Linked DNA regions of Homo sapiens: region 1 is linked to region 2. Evidence: fine-mapped expression QTL. A gene starts in region 2. The other region holds a variant in brackets. All regions are shown on one strand. Distances are between the middles of the regions.

Evidence for each region. PIP is the estimated chance that this variant, and not a neighbour inherited with it, causes the effect.
Region 1: its variant is the best candidate, but not a certain one, in a credible set for the expression of RAB3B in iPS cells (PhLiPS, PIP 0.70).

Annotation. Positions count from the first base shown.
Region 1 is chr1:51,905,605-51,908,507 of GRCh38, reverse strand. RAB3B (RAB3B, member RAS oncogene family) reads left to right here. Exons shown (of 5, transcript NM_002867.4): 5 at 1-552. Among named protein-coding and RNA genes, the nearest start is that of NRDC, 28 kb to the right of the region's middle. The variant C/T (reference allele first, on the strand shown) is at 1,575.
Region 2 is chr1:51,989,296-51,992,198 of GRCh38, reverse strand. RAB3B (RAB3B, member RAS oncogene family) reads left to right here and starts at 1,499. Exons shown (of 5, transcript NM_002867.4): 1 at 1,499-1,647. RefSeq lists a silencer at 1,476-1,585.

The DNA of each region.
Region 1 (2,903 bases), 84 kb after region 2:
CCAGGAGCAGATGATCTATCTCTGTGGCCACACAGAGAGATGTCACCTTATGCAATTTGCATATCATATTCAATTCCCCCAACTGCTCTTTCTAATTTATTCAACTGGGGACCAGGCTGGTCTCATGCCAACCTAGGAGATGTACCATAGCAGTATGAGCAGAATTCCTCAGGAGGAACAATTAGCAAAAACTGCAGTTGCCTCTCGATAGGCCTGAGCAGAGAGAGGAACAATAGCTCTCACGTCTCTCCTCATCAGATTCTAACTAAGCAGATGTTCTCATGCTTTTTTCTTCTTCCTATGTTCTGTATACTGACACCTCTTCTCAGTGGCATATGAAATATGAAATGTCATGTGTTGTGAGTTTGTATAAATATAAAGGAATATATATACACAGTAGCAAAAGAGAAGATCTCATTTACAAATATCTATGGTGTTTCCTTGTTCTGTGTTGATCTGTTTTATTGATACAAACTGAATTTTCTTAATGTATCTTCTATCTCTATTATAGTGGCAATGATGGTATATGCATTAAAGTTCTTCTGAATTGTGTATCATTTGTAGAGTGACTCTTTCCTGAGTTTGTGCTAAGAACTTTGGGCAGAGGAGGCTGGGCGCAGTGGCTCATGCCTGTAATCCCAGCACTTTGGGAGGCCAAGGCAAGTGGATCACTTGAAGTCAGGAGTTCAAGACCAGTCTGGCCAACATGGCAAAATCCCATCTCTACTAAAAATACAAAAATTAGCCAGATGTGGTGGTGGGCACCTGTAAATCCCAGCTCAACTGGGGAGGCAGAGGCAGGAGAATTGCTTGAACCCAGGAGGCAGAGGTTGCAGTGAGCCGAGATCGCTCCACTGCACTCCAGCCTGGGTGACAGAGTGATACTCTGTCTCAAAAAAAAAAAAAAAAAGAACTTTGGGTACAGATTCTTGCATTCAGAAATCTTTAAGAGGAACTGGGAAACAGGTCCAGCACCAGTGCAACAAAAGACACAATATGATGCAATAGCTCATGATGGACTCAGGAAAGGGGGAGATCAGGATGGACTACAACAGTCAGGGAAGGCTTCATGGTGAAGGAAGGACTGACATTGCAAGAGGTCAGGGAATGCCTATTAGTGTGCACTTCTGGAGACCTGCTGGGCTGTGGCTCTGTGCTAGGTGGTGTAGAGGTTGCAGAGAATAACAAGGGGCAATGTGTGCCTCCCAGCAGCTTAGCTCAGTGTTAGCTCATAGCAGAGATTTAAGATACACTGCTGGATGGCACGTGGGAACAAAGCTGCTGAGCTGGAAAGTAGAGAGCCCACAGGAAAATGAAACCAAATGTAGACAGAACTGGCAGCCCCAGGAAGGGGCAGAACCTGCTCCCTACCCCCACCTCTCCTCAAAAAGTTTAATGAGTCTAAGTAGGCGGGATATTCAGTCCAATTTTACACCTATCTCCACCATGATGTGCTAGGAAACCTTTCCCCTTTCTTAGCCTAGTTAACTCCTACTCATCTGCCAGGACTCAGGCATGGAGACCCTGGTGGGCCAGGGAGGACACAGAGCTTTGGAAGCACAGAGCAGAGATAA[C/T]GGAGGTGTCAGAGATGCATTCAGAGATTGGAATTCCTTCCTTCCTTCCTTCCTTCCCTTCCCTTCCTTCCTTTCCTTCCCTTTCTTCCTTTTCTTTCTTTTCTTTCCTCTCTTTCTTTTTTGGCATTTTAAAGAGTCCCTAGATAGGATTCTTTCAGTTACAGGACAGAGACCCACTTTTAGTAGTCACACAGTAAAAGAGGGGATCATGGCGGGAGGGAAATTTGTTAGCTCATGTTACTTATAAAGTCCTGGGCTATATCTAGCTTTAGGCTTAGATAGAAGCAGGTGACTAAATTATATTATCAGGATTCTCTCTCTTAGCATCAGTTTTCTCTGGGTCAGCTTTATTCTCAGGCCACTCCGGGCTTATCCTATTCATATAGCCATCTGGACAGAGAGAATGGCTCTCCTTCAGTAGTTTTGGCAAAAGTCCCGGTCATGTTTAGAATAGTCTAGGATTAATCATTATGCCAGGGGATGGGGTGTTCTGGTTGGCCAACACTAGATTTTATGCCAATCTCAAGTTGGAATGTGGGGTCAGTCCCACCCAAACCAGAGGAACTGCAAGTGGGAGAGGGATGGTTGCCCCAAAGGAAAATTAGGGTGCTGTTTCCACAAGAGAAGAGAAGAGAAGAGAATAGATGTTGTCCAGGCAAACATACCAGCTAGTCACAGGAGCTACAGAATCAGATCATTCCACAAAAGACATCCAAAAACTGGACTGAGAATGAGAATGGGTTATACCCTCAGGATATGGGGATGGAAGGAATAGGATGGGTAGGAATGTGGGGAGGGGCAGAGTGGAAGCAGCCAGCTGAGGGCAGAGTAGTCGAAGGTCAGTACATATGATTGAACAGGCTGTGTCCTGCTGAGTGGGCCAGAGGGAGGCTAAATCGGGGTTGAAATCAGCCTAGATTCCAAGTGCAAAGCCTTGGGTCCTGGTGTGGAGCTGCACTAGGAGAAAGGGCTCTTTGGTGTAATTCACACAAGGGTGCTGTCTCCTCACTAAGCCATGAGCATAGGGGCAGCATCCATCCAGAGCGGGCACAAATGTCTCCATTCTGCACAAAGATGCAGTCATGGGTTGAATTGTATCCTCCCAAAAGATATGTTGAAGCCCTAACCTCTGGTACCTGTGTGTGTGACCTTATTTGGAAATAGCATCTTGGCAGATGTAATCAAGTTAAGATGAGGCCATACTGCATTTGGGTAGACCCTAAATCCAACGACTGATGTCTTTAGAAAAGGGATGAGAGGGAGATTCAGACAGAGGGACAAAGGGAAGAAGGCTTTCCAGGGATGGAGTCAGGGATTGGAGCACTGCAG
Region 2 (2,903 bases):
GCTTGGGTGGTTCCTAGGCTGGAGATGTACACTGTAGACAGGGTCATAATGGAACTTGGGGGGAAAATGGTTTTGGTATTTGACTCAGACCTCTAAGATCTGAGATGGGGGAGAAGTGTGGGGAAAGACAATGATTCTAGAGCAAGCCTTCAGCTGGCTCCTGTGACCTCAGGAAGACTGGAAGTCCATATCAGGATTTGAGGGTGGGGTATTTATTGCCTCCTCTATCTGCCTCCTCTAGTGGAAGTGGGACTTCCTAGGGCCAGGCCAGGCAAGAACATTTTTCTACTCCTGTTGACAGCCTCCTGGTAATGGGAAACCATTGAGAGGTTTTTGTTTGTTTGTTTGTTTGGTTTTTGATGGAGTCTGGCTTTGTTGCCCAGGCTGGAGTGCACTGCTGGAGTGCAGTGATCTCGGCTCACTGCAACCTCTGCCTCCTGGGTGCAAGCAATTCTGCCTCAGCCTCCCAAGTAGCTGGGACTACAGGCATGCACCACCATGCCCGGCTAATTTTTGTATTTTTAGTAGAGACAGGGTTTCACCATGTTGGCCAGGTTGGTCTCGAACTCCTGACCTCAAGTGATCTGCCCACTTTGGCCTTCCAAAGTGCTGGGATTACAGGCGTCAGCCACTGTGCCTGGCCGAGAGTTTTCTTAAACAAGGTTGATGGTAACATGGTGACATTTTTTAAAGGGTTGCTCGGGCTTGTGTCAAAATGATTTTGGTATCTGACTCAGAATGAATGGGACCAGGAAGTCTCACAGCTACCGAAGTCACCAGGAGTATGGCAGAACAGGGGCTAGTTAGGATGACCATGGGCCAGGGGCTGCAATCTTTAATGCATAAGGAACAATTGGGTGTCAGTGATGAGGAGGGGTGGAGGGTGGTATGACTGGAGACCACAGGAGAAAGAATTTTTGTACAAGGGTGGAAATGGCCATGCTGACACCACGTCCTGGTTTTATAGGGTGAATTGGAGAGTGAAGGCAGGAATTAGGAAGCTGTTGCATTAGTCCAAGCAAGAAGTGATGATGCTGGAGTCAGAACAAGGGCAATGGAGACACAGAGGAAGGGCAGGGATATGTTAAGGCGGTGGGATGTGGGGTGTGAAGGAAACACAGATAGGGTAGAGGACAGCGTCCAGGTTTCTGGCTTGGTTTCCGCTTGTAGTCAGCCTCCCTCTCTGGGCTTTTGTGAAGACGGAGCCATAGAACGGACCGGACCAGAAAGCAGTTTGGAAATGGCAAAACTGCTACCCATCATCAGCTACATTATCATCAAAGCTCTCTAATTACCCTAGTAAGTTCAGTCAATGGAACGAGGCATGACAATTAAGATAAATCACGAGAGTCACCCAGACATGGGGGACCTGGAGGTCCTGAGTCACCTCGGATTACACCTGCTAGGAGTTGAGGGCCGGGGCGGGGCGAACACAGACTCCGCCCTTGGGCGGGGCCTGGATGCGGCCGGAGCGGAGCAGTGCTGGAGCGGGAGCCTCAGCCCTCAGGCGCCACTGTGAGGACCTGACCGGACCAGACCATCCCGCAGCGCCCCGCCCCGGCCCCCTCCGCGCCCTCCCGACGCCAGGTCCTGCCGTCCCGCCGACCGTCCGGGAGCGAACCCGTCGTCCCGCACTCGGAGTCCGCGGTAAGGGGCGCGGCCCCGGCAGCCCGCCCGCGGAGGATCAGGGACCGATCCCCGGCGCGGGGCGCTGGGCACCGAGAGCGGGCGCCGAGAAGGAGCGCGGGGCAGCGGAAGGAAGCCGGGGGAGGAGCGAGGGAGGGGGCTCCGCGGCGGCAGAGGTGGGGCTCACCTAGGGAGGGGGCGCCGAGGGGGTCTCCCAGACGTTGGGGGCAGCCGGGGGAGCTCCAAGGGCGGGAGGGGAGCAAGAAAGACGGCGCTGGGGCTGGGAGGAGAGATGGGGGGCAACTGGAGGGCAGTGAGGGATCGCTGGGGGAAACGGGGGCGTGGGGGGCGGGGGAGCTGCGAGGAGGGCGGAGTGGGGCTGTGCGGAAAGGTGGTACCGGGCAGCCGAGGGGCAGCGAAGGGGGCGGTGAAGGGAGCGGACTGAGGGGAGCTAGAGCGGGGGTGCGGGGGGAGGCATGGAGGTGAGGAGCTGAGGGGAGGGGACTGGCTGGGCGGGGGTCGTTTGGAGCTGGAGGGGACTGAGGTGCCGAGGGCAAGGGGCGCTGGGCAGCTGGGGAGTGTCTGGTTGGGAGAGGGTCGGGGGTGGGGATGTGGGTATGGATAGCTGGGAAGGAGAAAGGCAGCAGGGCAGTGTCTGGTCGAAAGAGGGTCATTTATGGGGGATGTGGGTATGGATAGCTGGGGTCGGAGGTTGAGCCCGGCTGGGGACCGGCGTGGGGGTAACTGTAGATGGAAGACGAGGGGTGGGGCTTGGGGGCGGGAAGCTTGGGAGAATGGAAGGGTGAGAGGCCAGGTTGGGTCTACCCTGCTGCAGAGGAAGGGGGCAGGGAGCCGGTGGAGACACAGGGAAGTGGCCTTGGAAATGGACACAGGGGCCTACATTCTGGTCAGGAGTGGAGAGGAGGCTCTGGAATAGAGTAGGGTCTGGCGGCTGCAAGTGGAGGAATCGTGGGAGAACTTGGAGTGTATAGATAGGGTGGTGGGGCGCTGGGTCAGCCTGGGGAGGAGGCCAGGTGTGGGTCGTGGTGTAAGGGTGGAAAGGTAATGGGGGCTGGAGTGGTGTCCACGCACTAGCGGTGTCTCGGCCACTCAGGAGTCCAAGGAGGGGACCCAGGCACTGGACCTTGTTACACGGGCACCGGGGATCACAGAAAATAAGAGAATCGTGGACAGAAAAAGTCATCCAACTCTGTTCTGTAGTCCAAGCATGGAAGCAACTTTGGGGAGGGCAGGGCAGCAGCCTTTGGAAGCTAAGA